3 linked regions of the Homo sapiens genome follow. The protein of the gene in region 2 interacts with the protein of the main gene of each other region in a biochemical or structural test. Each region holds a gene or a part of one and is shown on either strand. Other genes may lie near its edges. The genes, in order: NFIX, PRDM1 and TLE2.

Region 1 (7,105 bases), on a different chromosome or scaffold from region 2:
TGAGACCCAGAGAGGTTAAGCAACTTGCCTGAAGTTACACAGCTAGTGAGTGGCAGAGCCAGGAGTCAAACCCAGGAAGCTGGCTCTGCAGGCCCCACTCTCCTAATAACAGTACCTGCTGAACACAGGATTCAAGAAGACAAGCTGGGAAGGCACTTAGCAAGGGTGCAACGCAGCAAGCACACAGTTCACATTAGCTGTTGCTACGATTTTTAGGACAAACATTTATTTTGCTATTATCCTATCTTCTTCTACCATTCTGCTGACCGCTGTCTCTTCTTTCTCTGGGGTCAGAACTGGGGAGTCAAAGGCCAAAGGATTAGTGAGACAGCCCCACGGAGGACAGGAGTCTCAGAACTTAGCTTTGTTGGCCAGGCACAGTGGCTCACGCCTGTAATCCCAGCACTTTGGGAGGCCGAGGCGGGCGGATCACTTGAGGCCAGGAGTTTGAGACCAGTCTGGCCAACATGGAGAAACCCTGTCTCTACTAAAAATACAAAAATTAGCCAGGTGTGATAGTGCACATCTGTAATCCCAGCTACTCGGGAGGCTGAGGCATGAGAATTGCTTGAGCCTGGGAGGCCAAGGTTGCAGTGAGCTGAGATTGCACCACTACACTCTAGCCTGGGCAACAGAGTGAGACTGTTTAAAAAAAAAAAAAAAAAGAACCTAGCTTTGTCCCCATCCCTTCTCTCGGTGGCTGCCAGGAGCAAGGAGGTGAGGGTGGAGCCCTCGACCACGGAGTCTAGAAGACTGCGAGTGTCCTGGGCAGGGATGGGCATGTGGTTTTTCCAGGCTTTGTCTCACCCCAGGCTTCTACAAACCAGGGCAGGGATTTGGGGCTCCCAATTCTATCCTGAGAAGCTGGGGTGGCTGTAGCTGCTGCGCAAAGACAGCTGGTTGTGGCTGACAAGCAGAGGGGAGGTGCCACCAGGGCAGGTCTCAGCTCTCAGGCACCATTTCCAACCACTGCCAGGTGTGGCCCAGGTGCGAATATGTGTGGGGGTGTGGCTCTCGTCCCTGTGTGCTGGGGTAACACTGGACTGTGTACATGGCACGCCGACTGTGCCTGGGTTTGGCAGGGGAAATGGGGTATATATGCGACAATGCCTGGGTCCTAGTGAGGGAGAGTGTGTGTGTGTGACACTGTCAGCTGGCGTCTTGTTTGGGTGTGACTGTGTATGTGGGTGCATGTGTAATGAGTGTCAAGGGTTAGCTGTGCCTGTGTGTGTTACTGTGTATCTGGGGATGCATGGCAGGGTTTCCAACCTTGGCACTACTGACATTTGGGGCTGGATCATTCTTTGTGGTCGGCGAGGGTTGAGGGGTTCCATTGTAGGGGACTGAGCAGCATCCTGGGTCTCCACTCACTAAATAGCACCCCCTCCACAAGTGTGACAACCAAAAATGATTCCAGGTTGGGCATGGTGGCTCATGGCTCCCAGCACCTTGGGAGGCCGAGGCGGGAGGATCACCTGAGCCCAGGAATTCAAAACCAGCCTGGGCAACAAAGCCAGACTTCATCTTTACTAAAAATTTAAAAATTAGCTGGGTATGGTGGTGCTCGGCTGTAGTCCCAGCTACTTGGGAGGGTGAAGCGGGAGAACTGCTTGAGCCCAGGAATTCAAGACCAGCCTGGGCAACATAACCAGACTCTGTCTCTACAAAAAAATTTAAAAATTAGCCAGGTGTGGTGGCATGCACCTGTATTCCCTGCTACTCAGGAGGCTGAGATGGGTAGATCGTTTGAGCTTGGGAGGTCAGGGCTGCAGTGAGCCGAGATCGCACCACTGTGCTCCAGCCTGGGCTACAGATGACAGTCTGTCTCTAAAAAAAAAAAATGTTTCCAGACATTTCCCAATGGGTGAAATCACTCCTGGTGGGTGACACTGGGTTAGGGAGTGTGTGGGGTGTTTTGTGTGTCTGAGAGCGTGTTATTGCATGCATGTGCATGTACCTGTGTGCTTGGTGGCATGTGCGGGTGTATCGGTGCTCATGTGTGTGTTTTGGGCACTGACATTATGACTGAGTGTGTGTGCTGTGTGTTTCTAGCTGTGCCTGTGGGGCTGCATTTGACGGTGGCAGAGCCTGTGTCTGTGCTGTGTGCTTCATGGCATGTGATCGTGTGACTGCGCGTGTCCCGTGTGTCTGCACCCACATGCACGTCCCTGAGTGTGTAATGCCGCATCGATGTGTTCGGGTGTGGCCGGGTGCCTCAAGGTGTCTGTGAGTGAGGGCAAGATTCTTTGTATGGGGACGCCTGTGTCTGTTTGATTGAGGGAGGTGCAGCATGCCAGTGTGTGTCAGCGTGATTCTTTGTGCCCGCATGTGCCAGTGAGAGTGTGTGACTTTGTGTGAGATGGACCCGGAATAAACCCCCCCCCAACTCCCCAAGATGATTCGACCGAAGCCGATATTTGGACGGAACCACCTGGATAATTTGGAACCCATCCCTAGCTCCTGCCTGCCTTGGACTAAAAGGCCCAGGGGGGTCGGGTGCACCTCCATGCTGTCCTTTCCTCCAGCTTGGCTCACACAGATTCAGGTGGGGACAGACAGATCCCCGCTCTTGCCCGATCTGTGCCAGGAAGGCTGGCACTGAGCTTCAGCTGAGGGGGCAGGGTCCTTGGCGATGGTGGTGGGCACTGCCCCCTGCCCACTGCTGGCCACCACCCCCGGCTCCCCTCAGGGTGGGGCCCAGTGGGGGGAGAGCTCCCCAGTGCAACCCCGGCTTCCGATTGGCTGCAGAGCGCCGCAGTGCCCGCTACCCGCCTCCCCTCCCTGGCTGGCGCAGCCACATCGGTAGTGGTGGCAAACGCAACTTGGAGTTCTGGGCACAGCTGCGCCTCACAGAGGCCTGCCAGCCCCACCAGAAGCCAGACACCCCAGCTCCGTGCCCCCGACCCCTCCCTGCCCGCCCGCCCCGCCGGGCAGCTCAGTCACCCTGCCCATTGCCTCCCTCTGGCTGCCAGGCCCTGTCCACCCTGTTCCCTCACCCGCCAGGCCTGTGCCCCCCTGGCCAAGCCCACTCAGGGGGCCCAGGCCCCTGCACGAGGCCACTCCCGCCCTCAGAGGGGCTCCTCGGGAGGGGGGAGGTGGTGAGGAAGGGGGGGTTGGGGAGCTAGCCCTTCTTCCTTTAGTGAACGCGCCCAGAGCTGGAGCCAAAAATCGAGGAGGAGAGATATTCAGACGGAGCCAAGACGCGTTTGGCAGGAGGAGAGAGAGAGGGAGAGAGGGAGCGGGAGGAGGGGAGGAGGGGAGGAGAGAGGGAGGAAAGAGAGAGAGAGAAAGGGGGAAAGAAGGGGGGACCTCAGTTTCCAAATCCGCGCCCTCAGAGCCTCGGAGGGATGGCGGGTGGCCCAGGGGTGTGGGGCCCAGGGCCTGCCTGGCTGTGGGGGCAGCGGGGATAGTGGGCTCAGGCCCACGGAGACAGCCGGACACCCAGCTGGCCAGGCTAGAACGGACACAGGCAGAAGCCAAGATCAATGTGCGCCGGGCAGACAGAGGGAGGCCTGTGGGCGGCCCGAACACACGCCCGCACCTCGCTGCCGCACAACGGGCTTCTGTCCACGCCAGGCCAGGGGCACGGGCGGGGCCCCCAGCAAGGCCACTGCGGCCGCTCAACCTCATGGGAAGGGACTGAGCAGCCAGCCCGCTCCCAGCCGCTTGCCCGGCCGCCATAGCAGGCATCTCACATGGTGCTCGGAGGCCAAGGGAATGCCCAGGAGAGGCGCCCGTGGGGTGAGACCCACAGTGATTGTCACGGGGACAAGCTCAGGAGGCACAGTGATATGAGGGTGATGACACTGGAGACACGTGCGTTGACACGTATGTGGACACAAGTTGACACGGACAGGCCAACACGTGTGTGAGACACACGGATACACTCTTTGCCGTGACGCACAGACACCCAGAAAAACACTGCTGTAGATGTGACGCATGTCGCTGGGACACTGTCACCCCAGATACAAAGCGCAGATACAAAGATGGTGACCGGTACACCAATACCCGTTGACGTGCGCAGCGCCACCGTGACACAGAGACTACATCCGGCACACTGACACGCATGGTGGCACGCTCCCCGACCCCCACTACCAAATACACAAGAGACAGGGCGTGCGATGATCCGTGGAGTCACATGCAGGTAGCACCCAGTGATGGACGCTGGGAGACATGGAGAGGCATGGAGAGGGACCCGGGCAGACACACGCTGCCACACAGACATCCTCGGGAAAATGGTGGCTCTGAGGCCTGACATGCCGATTAACATGCACACCGATCTGGGAGAACCCAGATAGTGGCTCACAGCTGTCCTCCTGGCCCACTTGCCCCCACATCCAGGGCTTTGGGGGCAAGAAAATTAAGACACCCCCCTCCTTTTCCCCACCCCAGCTGGGAGGGAGGGGACAGAAGGCCCATTCTCAGCACCGTGTTGGAGAAAGTGCCCAGCCTCCCCTACCTCTCTGGTCCAGCAAGTCCCCAGATTCCAGCTTCATGGGGGTGGGGGAGACAATATCTCAGCAGATTTAAAAGGCCAGGCTCCCTGTGGGTTAGATGGGGAGGACGGCAGTCAACACACCAACCACGGGGGCATTTTGCCCACAGCCACGGCGCCACGGCCAAACACCCAGCATTGCTCCCACCCGCAATGTGCCCTGATCCAGCCAAGTGCCCACCATAGGGTCCTGCACATATGTCCTGTCTCCATGGCGGGTCCAGGTGACAACGCCCAGGTGCAGACACAGAAAGTTCTGGAGCTTGGGGACGTCCCTGAAGTCATCATCTAGATGCACCGGGTCTCTTTGTCCCACATACATTTGGATGAATGCGTGCACACATACTCTTATACCAGGACTCAGGGCCCCCAACCAGGGTATCTGGTCCTCATGGAACAGTGGAGGCCTCGTCTCTCCCCTCCTGCCCCCCACTCTCCCCCACCATCTCTCCCCTATCTTGAAGTTGTGCCACCCTCTGCTTGGCCTACAGGCCCCCATCCAAAGGTAAAAGAGCTGGGCCATGTGCAAACTCTCATCCTTCCAAACTCTCCTCTTGCCTCCTCCTCCTCCAGGCAGTCCACTTGGATATCTATGGTTGGGAGGTGCTCGATCCTGTCTTCTACCCCTCAGAGGCATCCCTCTCTCAGCTGGGAGGGTCTGGGAGGTTGACAACCAACAATTGGCAACAATTACCATTTATGGAGCACACACTATGTGCCAGGCACCACATTGAACCTAAGTACAGCCCAAGAGATAGACACTGGTTTTTGCCCATTTTACAGGCCAGGAAAATCCTGTGCTTCAGGTCGCAAGATTAGAACATGTAGAGCTGGAGCTCGAACCCATTTCTGTCTGACGGCAAAGCCTAGCCCTTGACTCCGCTCCCGCAGCCTCCGTCTGGGAGCTCTTGAGGCTACACAAGACATTCCAGGCCCTAGAGAGACTGGAGCACCCTGTTCCCGGCAGAGCCCTCGGCTCTGAGCTCGGCCCAGCATCAAAACATCTCACGGAGCCCCAGCTCATCTCATGAGCTACCCCATCCCGGCCCACACCTGGGCACACCTCCCACCCCAGCAGTGGGCATGAATCAGGCAGGGCCAGAGCCGGAGAGAAAATGCCAAGTGCCATGAAAACAGGGCACCAGGCCGGAGCAGGGACAGAGAGCTATAGCTTCGCAGGGACAGAGGGGTGGCCAGAGTGACCCAGAGAGAAAGCTGGGGGAAGGGGGCATCAGGGAAGCCCCAGCCATCCCCCTCCCATGGAAGGAGTGTTGGGGGAGCTATGCAGATACAGAAGTACAGGAACGTTCGGCTGCTTGTATGGCCAGGAAAATGGGCGTAGGTCGCTGCGTGTCTGAGAGCGGGTGTATCCGTGTGTGCGGCCATGTATGTCTTTGTGTGTGTCAGCAAATGTCGGCATGTTTGCCTTTTTATCCCTGTGGCAAGGAGGGGGAAGCACGCATTGGTGCATATTTGTGTGTGTGTGTGTGTGTGTGTGTGTGTTTGAAAAGGTATTTGTGGCCGGGTGCAGTGGCTCATGCCTGTAATCCCAGCACTTTGGGAGGCCGAGGCAGGTGGATCACGAGGTCAGAAGTTCAAGACCAGCCGGGCCAAGATGGTGAAACCCCATCTTCACTAAAAAATACAGAAATTACCCGGGCGTGGTGGCGGGCACCTGTAATCCCAGCTACTCGGGAAGCTGAGGCAGAGAATTGCTTGAACCCGGGAGGCAGAGGTTACAGTGAGCCGAGATCACGCCACTGCACTCCAACCTGGGCGACAGAGCAAGGCTCCGTCTCAAAAAAAAAAAAAATAGAAAAAGAAAAGTTATTTGTGTACACACCTGAGCGAGCCAACTGCATTATGTCTCTGTGTAAAGATGTGTATCCATCCATCCGCCTGTCCGTCCTTGGGTCCATGTGAGCATGTGTGGGGGTGAACACACATTTGTGTCTACCTGTATCCAAGCATGTGCTCAGGGCTCCATGAGTCTGGGAGGTGTCGTGGTCTCCATGTGCCTTCGTCGCTATCTGTATCATCTCGAGGGGTTTGTGAGTGTTTATGTGTGCGCTGGGGGTGGTTGTGAACACAAGTCCACAGTTTCCTGTGTCCATACGTGCGTCAAAGAGGTACTGCTGTGTCGCTAAGCCTACACCAATATACGTGTCCCATTTCAAGAGGTGCGTGTGTGTTAATGGGTGTGTGTGACAGTGTGAACACAAGTCGTCGGTTTCCTGTGTCCGTAGGTCTGTAGGCTCGTCGATGGTCGTGGGTCTGGACATCGGTGTGAACAGGACACTTACATCCCCATCTTGGCGGTGATGGTGGTGTACGTGAGTTCACATCCTGGTTGTGTCTCTGTTTCTTGGCAGGGTTGGGATGGGGATGGGGGTCCATCCATCCACCCCCCACCCCTCTCTCCGCCTGAGACTCAGGACTGTGGCTACAATGGACTCCAGCAGCTCCAGGAACCGCCCCACCCGGCCGCCCTGAATTTCGATGCTTTTTCTAGAAGGAGATTTTTCCCCCCGCCCTTCCCCCTCGCCCACAGTACCTTTCCCCGCCAGGGCCCCGCTGCTCCAAGCTCGTTCCTGCTCAATCATTTATTGA
Region 2 (7,105 bases):
AGTTGAGAAAGAACTCCACACTTGCTATCTGATAGGTCTAGAAATGAACTCTGTGAAACTCCAGAACTGAACCCTTTAAATGTATTCTCTAGGCTGACTGGCTTGAGGGATTCGATTCCAATTTGAGAGCCCCTTAGAGAATGTTATCTCCTGCCAGCGGTTATCAGTTCCTCCTGGGCGAGCCTGAAGCCCCAGAATAAACACAGAGAAGAACGCTATCAGGGAAGATGCTGACGGGGGGGCCGTGATGGAAAGCTTGCTGAGGGAGAGGGATTTCTGAAGCCACTAAAACAAAATAAATATCTCCTTATCAGGCCAATATCGGTCTTTCAGTGAGGCCCAGCAGGCAGGAAGTTCTAATTGTCACTTTTGTTTTTTAAAGCTAAAATGGTAAAGGATGAGAAAGACAACTAAGCTTGAAAACTGATAGGCAAGGCATCTCACAGCCACAGGAAGGAATTTTATGAAGGTGAAAAAGAATTATTTGGAAACATCTATATAGGGTCAAATTCATAATGATTTTTAAAAACGATGCCGCTCGAATAAAATGGAAATACAAAAAACTTTACCCTCATGACTTTGAGCCATTTTTACTCAAATTATGTATCTAAGTCTCATATTTTTTCCAGTGGCTTCCACACTCCCTTGGTTCTATAATTCAACAAATAATAATAGCATAAATGTGCAATAAGCATAAAGTTTCAGTCCATCTGTGGCACTGCCCCTCACATTTAGCCAGGGATTCTTCTTAAGTACCTTAATATAATTTGAATGTTGAACTGATATGAAACTTATGATTGGGCCAACAAAAAAGCCAGAATTTTAAACTTTCTATGCAAAACACTTAGCACAGTGCCTAGTATATAGTAAACTCACAATAAATGTTTGCTATCTCTAATGCCTTCAGAAAAATAGATTTGCATCTTATTCTAAAAGAACATCCAGAGTGACATGTTAGCCTCCCTAAGATGCTCTACAGGTGGAAATTAGGAAGTCCATATACAGTAAAGGTGCATTTTAAAAAATCATCCTTCAGCAGCTGAGTAATCAGTGGAGCTGGTGTCATTTCTGACTCTCCCACTCAGCAACAGCTTGAGTTAACATGAAAAAGAAAATCAAGATCTGTTTTTGTTCTGAAATCTTAAATGGCTGTAGGCGGACGGAGTCATTTCAAGAGTGAACTGCTTCTGAAGACTCCGAATGGCTTAATTATGCCGACTCACATTTTCGATCTATAATAAGAACCCCAAGACTATAAGAAAGAACCTAGAAGTTCTGCAGTAGGCAAAACAAAGTCTCTTTTCAACTGAAACTGAGAAAGCAGATTAACATTTAGAAGTCTATAATTTGGTCAACTGTTTTCTAGATGGGTTAGTTAGATAGATAGAAAAAAAATACCTCCCCCCCTGCCAAATTTGGGAGGGGTAGGGGTTTCAAACTTATTAGTTCTTTTATTCCTTTTCCTTTGTTTTTAGAAAAATGCCATTTTGTGATTTCTGGCTACTTACTTTTCTTTCCTTTGGTTTGTTTCAAATCCCTTCTTCTCCAAACTCTACCGCCTGAACCATCACTGCCATTTAAGCCCTCATGGAGATTCTTGCACCACCTCTATTGTGCTTTAAGCATGGAAACCCAACACAGTTCATTTGGAGACACAATCTACCTATTAGGCCTGATGAAATAGTGGAAATTTTCCTGATCACAGTCTCAATCATCAGCTGCCACGCCTAAGACAACCGGTTTCACAACTGGCAGCAGGAATCTTGTTTTAATGTGACTGGTTATTGTTAACTCTCATTCTTTACTATGAATATTGGACAATGAAATGTGCTTGAAAATGTTAAACCACCATTTAGAAAAAATTCTGCCAAAATAAAAGGGGACATACTGCATAAATAAAAAGGGATAAATAAAAGGTGTCATTTCACAGTATATATGACAGTTGCTTCTGAACACAAAGTAGAAGCACTTGAACCTTAAAATACTGTGCAAAACCTTTCTTTGAGGAATAAAAACGCCAGGCCTTTAAACCCTTCCCTTGATTGGCACAGGGTGCGGGAAGCATGCAAAAAAGTTTCTTGGTGGTTGGTGCAAAGTCACTGGGGTAGGTCACCTCAAATGAACTGTTTAAAGAAAAGCAAAAATCAAAAGACTTTCCTCTGAATCCATGAATGATTAAACTCAAGGAATGTAAGGAGACCCTTAAGTGGAAGTGGCTCACTATGTTAAGAAAGCCAGGAGGGAGCTGTGCGCTTCTTCTGAGACGCACAGCTGGAATACGAGTTCCACAAAAATGCCACTGTGCCTGTGCATTTGTCGTTTGTTACTAGGTCCTCAGCACTGGGCATGGCATACACAGATGCCACAACAGCCGAATGGTTCCTGGGAGGCTCAGCCCTAGGGATATGACAGAGTCTCCAGAGTCTCGGGGAGCGCTGAAGAGACATGAGGGAAAAGAACTGCCACCTTTTTGGTCAGGACCTAATTAGACCCATTAAGCTGGAACTGGGGAACTGAGAGCCAGTTCTTTTCCTGAAGCTCAAGGGTAACCTGTTGTGTAAGGACCCCAAACACACGACCTCCCCTACGGGGGAGGTCCTGATGCTTTTATAGCCCCAGATTTTCAGAAAAACTGCAAACACAATCTTGCAATCTTAAGGGAGATCAAGTAAAATGAAGTGTGGAATGAATACCAAATAACCATACAGTTGGATTATATATGACTAGGGTAAGTACTTGGCTTGTTCATTGGTCCTAAAATCAAAGTCAAAATTCCAATTTATGTTAACATTGATATTTATTCCAAATGTCTCAAAGGTGAAAATGAGAACTAAAACAAGTTAGCCTTCTGGTAAAGCAAATGGATATACTTATCAATAACTGGTAAACCTGGGTAAAGGGTAAGTGGAAATTCTTTGTCCTTTTCTTCAAATGTTTTCTTAAGTTTGAAATGATATCAAAACCAAAAGTTACAAAAACTTCAGCATTTAGTCTTAACTTCTAAACCAAAAGGAATAATTTTTAAAACTGCTAATAAGATTTAGTGGTCTAACCAAGAACACACAACCATAGTTACAGCAGAGGTTAGAATCTTATGGCAATTCTTAAATTGCTCAAAGAGATCACTTGAGAATGACCAAAATGATGCAGCCCTCTGCAGAGAGAGGTCATGACAGCAATTTTAATCAAATAAAAGAAGTAAAAGCACATAAACCTAAGGAATTGAGAATTTGTTAAGATAAAGTGATAGGTGGCTACTATAATACTGATCAAGAGATCAGATAGTTTTTTTACTGTAAGGAAGGAAGCTAAGATGTAAAATCTTTACGGTTATTCACTTAGAATAATATTGAAAAATTATGACAAAGTTTTTCTAGCAATGATCTTACAATGTTCCACATCAGATCCTAACTGTACACTCAAATGTACATCTATAAATATTTTGATGCAGTCTAAGCCCTGCCAAAGTACCACAGATGAGGGCTATACCTTGCATACGCAGCATGTCTGGACCAATCCCTGTAATTCTCCCAACTGCTTTTGGATAAATTAGAATTGGACATATATTTCTTCCTGTAACATCCTGAATTCAAAACTCAAGGTAGCTCCTCATATATATATATACTTTTAAATGATCAAGTTTCCTAATAGTTAATAGGGACTCAAAAAATGTTTTTCCTCTTCCTAGTCCCTAGCTTAAGCCACCTACTTCATCCAACACATGACAAAGCCGTATAATTAAACAACATGTTATTAGTTCAAAGGGGCAGAACCGACATTACTGGCATTTTTTATTTTTTTGTTCTGTAATCCACTTACTGAGATTCATCATTGTCAGCTCTCCGGGATAAGGGTAGTGAAGCCTTTCTGCAAAGTCCCGACAATACCACACAAGAAGTTCCTGGTTGGCAGGGATGGGCTTAATGGTGTAGAAGTAGATGTTCATCCCGTTCTGACACGCAGCCAGGTTTTGCTCCCGGGGAGAGTGTGCTGGATTCACATAGCGCATCCAGTTGCTTTTCTCTTCATTAAAGCCGTCAATGAAGTGGTGAAGCTCCCCTCTGGAATAGATCTGTCCAAAAGAGAAGACAGGCATGTAAAAGGAAGTCAGACCCAAAGCTCCCCAGCACCTCTCAGAATAAACACAGCCGGTACCGTGTGTGATTTCTGATCCCCTACTGCCTAGTTAGAAAAAGAATCCAATCAGTTTAGCCAGAATAGTCTTGAATCAGCAGAAATCAGGGCGGAAACAGGTAAGGCACACTTTTGTCAGTTACCTTTTCCATTTCAGTTTTATCGTCTTTTCATGTTCGGGAAAATAACAGAAAAATGAAACACAAATGTTCATTTAAGGAGCTGCCTCAAACCGATTAACCCACCACAGAGTACTACTTTTGCTACTGCAGTGAATGGCAAATGGGCGATGCTACTGACTTCAGTTCCGATTATGCTGACTTTTAGTGCTTTGAGTCACTGGGTAGAAGACCAAGCCGGCTGACGACGTCAAACTGAGTCTTAGCTTTTTCTATGGCCTCTGTACTCGCCGTTTCCTACACCCCCGCCCAAGGCTTCAACTATGCAAACATCCTCCACCCCCAACCCTCCAAGTCCTAAAGTAACACTTGTTCATATGAATACTTGGAACCTTGCCTTTTTGTGGAAACACTGGGTGGGGCAAAGGTGAACTTCACCTGCCATAACAAAGCGAACACTCGGGCAGCAGCCCGAATTTGACAGTCTATTACTGAGAAGTCACTTTTCCTCTTGATAAACATGTCCAGACTTGCACTTTCCTTTCAATGCAAAGGAGGGAAGGGAACCCCTTATCTGGGAGGAGGCTGGCTAAAACACCACACACAGAGCCATAGGCGTGTGTTTTTGGAAAAAGAACAGGAAGAAAGTATGTTGTTCCTTAAAGGCAACGCAGAATGAAGAATTTGAAGTTTGTCCTAGAGTAATACTACTTCTGGATAACAGATGCACTCAGGCTACTTGGCAAAGAGGCAGAGGAAGAAGAAAAATTAAAACGTACACTCTTACTGAAACTATAAACACACTCCTTATCCTTCCACACAAAGTTTTCTCTCTTCCCCTCTTTTTAGGAGGTACCACCTTTACTTTAGACTTTAAGAAATTTCCTTATACAATCAGTCAATACCTAGTGTGATCTGCGACTTGCAGTCTCCAAGCAGCAGTAAGGCACTGTTCGTAGCAGGAATTTTGTGCTCACCGGACAGCAGGTTATTGCTTTTCCTTACTCACGTACCGACTATGCTAGTCTACAGATAGTTTCTGTATTTCGCTCAAACGTTATCAGAAATAAAAAGGAACTCTGTCCCTTTAACACAGGCGGTAAACACCAGAATCACTTTCTTTTAAGAGTAACTTCCTGTAAATTGTGAAGGGGGAAATACATGTGGCTTCATCAAAGCAGCTTGTGAGAGCTTTTGCGGTGTGTTTTGTTAAGAGAAAATGGAACAAGGCTGGGTGAATTCTGCTATCAAGAGGGGTTTTCAAGTTTGTTTACTCTGATGTGCAAACTTCCAGGAACATGGGGTTCCATCGCTCTTGTACTCTTCGCTGGTGCGGAAACTGCTTTCTAAAGCTACGGGTATGTTGATTCCAGTTAGCCTTCCTCGGACTGCAATTTACTGTATCCTCATTTAAAAACAGCAATGTCGGTGCCATGAAGTCACTCACACAGAATAAAATAACGCATATGTAAAATGAACACCGTTTCCTACCACCTTCCTGCACTTCCATATATTATCTAGAAGATTAAAATGCGCTGATTCATAGTACAGTTACAAGAAATGTCACTGGTTTCTCAACTTGAACATCCCTTCTTTGGCAGTGTAATTTGCATGAAACTTTTTCTTTCCTCACAACAGATGTTCATATTCCTGCCAGCAAAAACGAGATGTTCTACAATATCCTTTGCATGTGAAAGACTGATTCAAATAAATCCTCCCAAGGAAAGCCTTTCAGTTACTTACAGTGAATCTTTAAATGAAACAGGGAACTGGACAGTGAGGGGGAGATTCTTAGGTACTTCTTGCCTTTTCTCAAAATAATCACACATTAATGAGACTTATGCTGGATTGTCTTAATTCAGACCTTTAACTCCAAGAACTATGCACCTTTGTGGCTCACTTCTGAGAAGACGTTATTGACAATAAAGGCAAAAATGCACTCATGGTTCCACCATTGTAAGTCAGGTGATTAATATATTTTAAGGAGGAATAATTATTAAATAAAAATTGTGAGCACATGATTCTTAGTGAATCTGTAACTACCCTCTTTTGCTTGGGAAATAGTAAGATAAATTTCTAAAAATGAAAAACTTCCTGGATTAAAAATATTGTTTCTTAGGAATAGCTTCTTGTCCGAACGATATAATCGTTCTAGGCAAAAATACCAGCTAAAGCAAGCATAACACAATTTTTGTTATCATGCAGCTGTTTCTTTTTAAAGAATTCAAATAATGTACATTTCATGTAAGTATGCACAAAAAAACGCTTACTAAATTCTTTATCTTCTGAGGAAACTAAATATCCCTGAGACATCTATGGGAAGAAGGAAAGCAATCTGACTTTTTTCTGTTCACTGCTAATCCAGTGTTTTATTCAAGGATTCCATCTAATTGGTTCACCTCTGGGGGCCTTTCTAACCCTAATATAGCAAAGGAAATTGTACTGGCTAGATCTTTTGGTTGGATGCTATAGGAAAGCTTATCATCTTGCATATGACTGTTAAGCATTTTCCTTATGCTATGAGATAATTAACCTATTGTCAAATGGAATCATTTTACCATGCACATGTATTTAAATAGGACTAGTTCTGTGGTCCTCCATTCCCCTCAACCCATCTTCCAGCTATCCTTCCTTAATGGCATTTACTTATAAGGTAATTCATTTGTCATTCCTGGCTGGGCGCGGTGGCTCTTGCCTGTAATTCCAGCACTTTGGGAGGCCAAGGTGGGCGGATCACGAGGTCCAGAGATCGAGACCATCATGGCCAACATAGTGGAACCCCGTCTCTACTAAAAATACAAAAATTAACTGGGCATGGTGGCGCGCACCTTAGTCCCAGCTACTCGGGAGGC
Region 3 (7,958 bases), on a different chromosome or scaffold from region 2:
GGGCTAGGGTGATGCTCTGGTTTAGAGTATCTGGGGGATGTGTGTGGGAACCCTGATAGGAGCAGGGGGTAAGAGTCTGAGATCTGGGGGACCTCTAGGGGAGATGCCCAGTTGGTGGCTGGACCCACAGGGCTGGGTCTCAGAGTAGGAACCGGAGGTGGTGCCAGAGCTTGCAGCCATCCTCACGAGGCGGTCACTGAAGCCTGGAGGGAGAGGCGGTGTCTCAGAGCCCTGGAAGCCAGAGGTGTGAGTCAAGTTGACATTCAAGTGACCGGGCTAAGGAAGGACAGAGACCTACGTTTGTTATTTTACTTTTTGTAGAGATGGGGGGTGGGGGTTGGGTCTCGCTATGTTGCCCAGGCTGGTCTCAAACTCCTGGCCTCTTTGGCCTCCCAAAGTGCTGGGATTACAAGTTTGAGCCACCACACCTGTGCTTAGAGAGGGAAGAGGGCCGCCCGGACAGGAGAGCCCCGCAGAGGGAGGTGAGGCTGCTCTGAGCAAGCATTGTAATGGAGGTCAAGAAGGAGCCATTGGGTTTCCAGAGCCAGGGGCTTAGGCAGAAGAAGGAAGATCTGGAGGGGCGCGGTGGCTCACACCTGTAATCCTAGCACTTGGGAGGCTGAAGCAGGCAGATCGCCTGCCAGGAGATCAAGACCAGCCTGGCCAACATGGTGAAACCATGTCTCTACTAAAAATACAAAAATTAGCCGGGTGCGGTGGCTCACGCCTGTAATCCCAGCACTTTGGGAGGCTGAGGCGGGCGGATCACGAGGTCAGGAGATTGAGACCATCCTGACTAACATGGTGAAACCCTGTCTTTACTAAAAATACAAAAAATTAGCTGGGCGTGGTGGTGGGCGCCTGTAGTCCCAGCTACTTGGGAGGCTGAGGCAGGAGAATGGTGTGAACCTGGGAGGCAGAGCTTGCAGTGAGCTGAGATGGCACCACTGCACTCCAGCCTGGGCGACAGAGTGAGACTCCATTAAAAAAAAAAATTAGCCAGGCTTGGTGTATGTCTGTAATCCCAGCTGCTCGAGAAGCTGAGGCAGGAGAATCACTTGAACCTGGGAGGCGGAGGTTGCAGTGAGCCGAGATCTGTAATCCCAGCTACTTGAGAGGCTGAGGCAAGAGAATCGCTTGAAACTGGGAGGCGGAGGTTGCAGTGAGCCGAGATCGTGCCACTGCACTCCAGCCTGGACGACAGAGCATGACTCCGTCAAAAAAAAAAAACAACCAACAAGAAGGAAGATGTGGGGTGGACAGTTGCAGACAATGAGGACAGAGGCTACCATGTATGCTCAAGGTCCAGGCAGGGGAGATGTTGGCCTCCCAGGAGCAGTGAAACACCTGCCGGAAAGGGTTTGGAATCAGCACTTCACAGACCCCCAAGAACCTGGAATCACGGACTCTTGACAGCGTAGAATGATGGCGCTCCCTGTTTGTGAGAATTTCCAAGCAGGGAGTGTGGCCGGCGGTTTCTGGCTTTAGGCTGGTTATTGAGCACTTACTGTGTGCCAGGCCCCGCAGAGACCTAGACAGGCTCAGTCCCTCCACAGCCTTCTTCGTGGTGAGGGAGACAAACAAGGACGCGAACAACCTCCGAGTAAACATACTCACATCCAAAACACACTGTGGGCTGGGCACGGTGGCTCAAGCCTGTAATCGCAGCACTTTGGGAGGCCAAGGAGGGTGGATCATCTGAGGTCAGGAGTTTGCGACCAGCCTGGCCAACATAGCGAAAGCCGGTCTCTACTAAAAACATAAAAATTAGCCAGGCGTGGTGGTGGGCACCTGTAATCCCAGCTATTCGGGAGGCTGAGGCAGGAGAATCACCTGAGCCCAGAAGGCAGAGGTTGCAGCAGTGAGCCGAGATCACGCCACTGCACTCCAGCGACAGAATGAGACTCCGTCTCAAAACAAACAAAAACAAAAAAACCGAAGGCCAGGCATGGTAGCTCACGCCTGTAATCCCAGCACTTTGAGAGGCCGAGGCAGGTGGATCACCTGAGGTCAGGAATTCAAGACCAGCCCGGCCAACATGGTGAATCCGTCTCTACTAATAATACAAAAAAAATTAGCTGGGCATGGCGGCGGGAGCCTGTAATACCAGCTACTCCAGAGGCCGAGGCAGGAGAATCGCTTGAACCCGGGAGGCATAGGTTGCAGCAGTGAGCCGAGATCGCGCCACTGCACTCCAGCCTGGGCAGCAGAGCAAGACTCCGTCTCAAAAAACAAAAACAAAAACAAACAAAAAGCCACACACTATGGTAGGAGCTGGGAAGAGAGGGAGAATAGGATGGAGAGTGTGAAAATAACGGGGTGGGCAGAAGCTGTTGAAATGGGTGGCTAGGAGGGGCCGTTCTGAGGAGGTAGCTTTTGAGCTGAGACTTGAATGATAAGAAGCAAGGGAAAAGCATTCCAGGTACAGGGAACAGAAAGTGCAATGGCCCTGAGGCTGGACTGTGCCTGGTGTGAGGCCAGTGTGACTTGGGCAGAGTGAGTGAGGGCGAAAATGACCGGAGTTGAGATCATGAAGCTGGCTGGCCGGGTGCAGTGGCTCATGCCTGTAATCTCAGTGCTTTGGGAGGCCGAGGTGGGAGGATCGATTGAGCCCAGGAATGCAAGACCAGCCTGGGCAACACAGTGAGACCTTGTCTCTATAAACAATAAACAAAACATAAAGAGATGGTGAAGGGGAAAAGGGGAAGAGTTTTGTGAAGAGCCTTGTGGGAAGAGAGATGAGTTTGGATTTATTTTGAGGGCAATAGGGAGCTAGTGAGTACTACACACACACACACACACACACACACACACACACACACACACACAATTGTATCTTTATCCCAGGCTGTGTCTCTTTTCCTCCCTTCCCAGAGCTGCCCAACCTCATCGTTCAGGTCTCATCTCCAAGGCTACCCTCCCCCAAGGGTCCTCTCCCAGACACCCCACATAAGCAGGTTTGCTTTTGTTCATCTCTATCACTGCCCTCTAAACTCTTCCTCTGTCTGTACAAATAGTCCCATAATTACCAAGCTGTGAACCTGCCTAGCCTGTCACTCACATCCCACAAACTCAGAGAGGGCAGGGATCTGTCTCCCTTATCCACCCTTACAATCCCTGTGCCTGGAAGGATGCCTGACACGTCATAGGTGCTCTGTAAATATCTGTGGGCTGGAAAACGATGGCTTTAAATTTGATAAGGGCTTTTTTTTTTTTTTTTTGAGACAAGGTCCTGCTCTGTCACCCAGGCTGGAGTGCAGTGATGTGATCTCAACTCAGTGCAGCCTTGACCTTCTGGGGCTCAGGTATCTCCCGCCTCAGCCCCCCAAGTAGCCGGGACCACAGGTGTGCATCACCATGCCTGGCTAATTATTTTTGTATTTTTTGTAGAGATACAAAAAACACAAAAATGTTTTTTTGTATTGTCGCGGTGTTGTCCACACTGGTCTTGAACTCCTGGGCTCAAGCGATCCTCCCTCCTCAGCTTCCCAAAGTGCTGGAGCTACAGGCATGACCCACCACCCCTGGCCCATTGATAAGGGCTCTTGTGCCCTTTTGTAAGGGTACAAAATGGGTTTTTGTAACCCTAACCCTTAGGTACCATTAGGTACTCGATCACCTAAGGACACAAGTCCAAGTGTCATCAAGGGGCATGGATTTTTCTCTGTTTTGTTCCCAGCTGTGCCCCAGTGTCTACAGCAGTGTGTGGTCCACAGTATGCATTTAGTACACGTTTGTTGATTGACTTCACAAACCTCTCCTGAGGTTTCTCCAAAGAGAATAAGAACTTCCCACTCCCCGGGTGGGCCTGAAGGATGCTGGCTGGATGTCTGTGGTCTCTGGTCGGGGCTGGAGCCTTTGCCGTGGGAGAGACTTGAGTCTGATGGCAGAGCTGTGGTTCTTCCAGTTCTGAGTGGGACACGGCTCCTGCCTTCAAGAAACCCAGTCTGAGAGGGGAGACAGCCCAGTCCACTGGTGATGGCAGTAGGAACACAATTCCCATCTGTGGAAGTTTGCTCTGTGTAGGGAGAGGCTGACAGCGTTCATGCACTATCTCATTTAAGTGCAGTGCCCAGTGCGGTGGCTCCCGCCCGTAATCCCAGCACTTTGGAAGGCCGAAGAGAGAGGCTTGAGTCCAGGAGTTCAAGACCAGCCTGGGCAACATAGTGAGACGCCCCCCTACTCCATCTCTGCAAAAAATTAAAAAATTAGCTGGGCGTGGTGGTGCACACCTGTAGTCCCAGCTACTGGAGAAGCTGAGGGGGAAGGATCGCTTGAGCCCAGGAGTTCGAGGCTGCAGTGAGCCATGATTGCCCCACTGTACTCCAGCCTGGGCAACACAGGGAGACCCTATCTCTGCAAAAAATTAAACCCTAAAGATAGCGCACCACCCCTGACCTTTTGCAGAGACTACTGAGGCCCCCAGAGGGCGAGGGCCCGGCATGATCTGGGAAGCAGTGTTTGCTGTGAGATTCCCTTTCTGGCAGGGTTCCCTGCCAGCGCTTGGCAAGGCTGCGTCCTGCTGACCCTTCAATCTCAACCCAATGTCACTTGCTCAGAAAAGCCATTTCCGACTCCAGACTGGTCCCCGCTCCCCGCAAGCCCCCCCCCCCGCTCCCACGGTGGGTAACACGGTGTGAATTTCTTCACTGGTTTTTCTTCTCCCGCCCCTCCGGGAGGGGGTGGGGACCCTGTTTTAAGGCACTGGGCGCCTCCCCACCCGGCCTCAGTTTCCCCAACGGCCCAGGGACTGAAGGAAGGGGGCGGGTGCCCGGGGGCCGGGGGGGGCGCGGGCGCGGGGAGGGGCGGTGCGCGGGGGTGGGCGCGGGGCGGGCCGCGGGCGCGTGGGGGCGGCGGCGCCACCTTAAGGCGGCTCAGCCCGCGGCTCCCGGCCGAGCCCCGCCGGAGGGAGGCGGCTCCGCGCGGGGCCCGCCGCCCGCGCCGCCGCCACCGAAACCCGGCCGCGGCGCGCCCGACCTTCTGCGCCGGCTGCCGCGGCCGCCCTCGCCGCGCTCCCGCCCCGGCCGCTGCCCCTGCCCGCCCCGCTCGCCCCGCGCACCCCAACCCGGGGAGGGGCTCCCACGACCCCGGGCGCGCGCGCTTGGGGGCGCGCCAGGGACTCCAGGGTCCCTTGCCCCGCGCCGCTTCTCCCTCCTCCCTCTTTCTTCGGGCAGCCTCCCCACCACCCCACTTCAGCCTCCCCCACTCTTGCCGCCTCCATATCATCAAGCTCTGGTGGCGCCTGGGGGGCTTTTCGGATCGGCAGGATGTACCCCCAGGGAAGGCACCCGGTGAGTGCGGACTGCGGGGAGGGGGCCCCCAGTGTCCGGGAACTCAGACCCTGACGTTTCCCCCACACCCCCCCCAGACCCCGCTCCAGTCCGGCCAGCCCTTCAAGTTCTCGATCTTGGAGATCTGCGACCGCATCAAAGAAGAATTCCAGTTTCTTCAGGCTCAATACCACAGGTGAGGGGGGCCGCCCCAGGGGCCGCGGGAGTTCACCTGGGCGCCGGGGCGGGGCGAGGCCTCCGGGGTATAGGGCGGGGAGGAGGGGCTCCCGGTTGGAGGGGGGGCGCGACAAAGGCCTCCAGGTGGAAGCGCAGGTGCAGAGGGGTCTGGGGACAGTCAGAGCTGGGGCATTTGGAGCCCAGGAAGGGGCGGGGAGGGACTGGGACAGGAGGTGGGGGGAGGTCTGTAAGGAAGTCGGGAGGGGGAGATCCAGCCTCTCACTTTGGAAGCCGGCCCACATGGGGCGGGTGGGAGCCCCTTGCCCTCTCTCTTCTTCTCAGCCTCAAGCTAGAATGTGAGAAGCTGGCCAGCGAGAAGACGGAAATGCAGCGACATTATGTCATGGTGAGGGCACTTATGATGCCAGGGTGAGGGGAGAGGCGGGCAGGGCTTTGAGTCACGGTGGACTCTGGGGTAGGTCCCTGCCCCACTCCGAACCTCGTCTTCCCCGTCTGTACATTGGGCAGGTTGGGATTTCAGGCTCTCTAGGAGGGTCCTCCCAGCTCTGGGAATGGGGAGACAGGGAGGACCCCTCGCCTGATGGGAGTCTCTGTCGGGCCAGGGCCTCTGGACACTTCCTACCTGCCCTGCCTCTCTGGGGAGAGTAGAGGGGGCCCTTCCAGGCAGAGCCCCCGCTTCCTCCTCTGGGACCCCGTGGAGCTGGGGGGGGCTCTGCTTCCTGCTGTGATTCCCCTGAACCTGGGGACTCTTGGAAGACCCTGGCATCACCTATCTGGAGGAGGGCACCCATCTCCACCCTAGACGTTCTTACTTGGTTTTTCCTTTGCAGTATTATGAGATGTCGTACGGGCTCAACATTGAAATGCATAAGCAGGTAACTGGGTTGGGGTTACGCGTGTTCAGGAGGGAGGGTGGGGGTCTGGAAGCCCTGAGAAGGACCCAGAGTGGGCAGCCGGGGCCAGAGCAGACCTAGGGAACACGGGTCTCATCCTGAAATCTCCGCAGAGGTCACAGAGGGCCCATCTGGGACCAGGAAGACAGATTTCAGCCTCGTGGAAGGAAAATGAGTCCCACCTTCTGAAGACAGTATCTAGCAGTTGGAGCGTCCAGCAGAGATGCAGGCAGTGGGCAGGGGCCACCAGGCATCCCCATCAAGGAGGGCACATAGCAGAGGCAGGGCAGCCAGGCCAGGGAGGCTGTGGAAGTGACTTCTGTCCTAGGAGGGAGCTGGATGGCCACTCTTAGAGGTCCCTTTCAACCCAGAAAGTCTGAAGTTTTGAGATGGACCCCAGGTTCTGTTGCTGCTTTGAAGCTTCTGAGATTGGTCTCAGTGTGATTGGCTGGAAGGTTCCAAGATTGTTCTCCAGGCCCTGAATTTGATGCCATGGTTCAGACTGTGACCCCACTACTCCAAAATAGACCTCAAAACTCTGTGGCTGTCTTCAGGGCTTTGAGATTGACTCCAGTGTCGTAAGGCTCTGAGCCTCTTCTGGAGCTTCTCAGTGTGATCCAAGGTTCTGAGACAGACTTCAGGGTTCTGAAATAGACCTCAGGGTTCTGAGATTGACCTCAAGGTTCAGAGATAGACCTCAGGGTTCTGAGATTGACCTCAGTGTTCTGAGATAGACCTCACGGTTCTGAGATTGACCTCAGTTTTCTGAGATAGACCTCAAGGTTCTGAGATAGACCTCAGGGCTCTGAGATTGACCTCAGGGTTCTGAGATAGACCTCAAATTTCTGAAATTGACCTCAGGGTTCTGAGATAGACCTCAAGGTCCTGAGATAGACCTCAGGGTTCAGAGATAGACCTCAAGGGTCAGAGATAGACCTCAGAGTTCTGAGATAGACCTCAAGGTTCTGAGATAGACCTCAGGGTTCAGAGATAGACCTCAAGGGTCAGAGATAAACCTCAGGGTTCTGAGATTGTCCTATCTGTGTACTGAGATGTGTTAAAAGGTTCTGAGGTGTTCCTGAACTTGTGATCTCAAGGTTCAGAGATAGACCTCAGGGTTCTGAGATAGACATCAGGGTTCAGAGATAGACCTCAGGGTTCTGAGATAGACAGGGTTCAGAGATAGACCTCAGGGTTCTGAGATTGACCTCAGGGTTCAGAGATAGACCTCAGGGTTCTGCGATTATCATATCTATGTGCTGAGATGTGTTAAAAGGTTCTGAGGCTATTCCCGAACTTCTGATCTCAAGGTTCTGAGATAGACCTAAAGATTTTTTTTTTTTTTTTTTTTTTTTAAATTTTGAGACAAAGTTTCACTCTTGTTGCCCAGGCTGGAGTGCAATGACCTGATCTTGGCTCACTGCAACCTCTGCCTCCTGAGTGCAAGCGCCTCTCCTGCCTCAGCCTCCCGAGGAGCTGGGATTACAGGCGCCTGCTACCATGCCTGGCTAATATTTTGTATTTTTAGTAGAGACGGGGTTTCTCCATGTTGGCCAGGCTGGTCTTGAACTCCTGACCTCAGGTGATCCACCTGCCT

Evidence for each region.
Region 1: the proteins of PRDM1 (region 2) and NFIX form a complex in vitro, tested with the Homo sapiens proteins (one study listed by BioGRID).
Region 3: the proteins of PRDM1 (region 2) and TLE2 form a complex in vitro, tested with the Homo sapiens proteins (one study listed by BioGRID).

What each region holds. Positions count from the first base shown.
Region 1 is NC_000019.10:12,998,381-13,005,485, reverse strand, and holds part of NFIX (nuclear factor 1 X-type), read right to left. Parts: intron 1-7,105.
Region 2 is NC_000006.12:106,096,267-106,103,371, reverse strand, and holds part of PRDM1 (PR domain zinc finger protein 1), read right to left. Parts: intron 5,284-7,105; exon of another isoform or gene 5,159-5,283; intron 4,432-5,158; exon of another isoform or gene 4,287-4,431; coding exon of another isoform or gene 4,278-4,286; intron 4,073-4,277; coding exon 3,820-4,072; intron 1-3,819. UniProt on the Homo sapiens protein: Transcription factor that mediates a transcriptional program in various innate and adaptive immune tissue-resident lymphocyte T cell types such as tissue-resident memory T (Trm), natural killer (trNK) and natural killer T (NKT) cells and negatively regulates gene expression of proteins that promote the egress of tissue-resident T-cell populations from non-lymphoid organs.
Region 3 is NC_000019.10:3,026,214-3,034,171, reverse strand, and holds the start of TLE2 (transducin-like enhancer protein 2), read left to right. Parts: upstream 1-4,891; 5' UTR 4,892-5,267; coding exon 5,268-5,291; intron 5,292-5,368; coding exon 5,369-5,466; intron 5,467-5,789; coding exon 5,790-5,853; intron 5,854-6,298; coding exon 6,299-6,343; intron 6,344-7,958.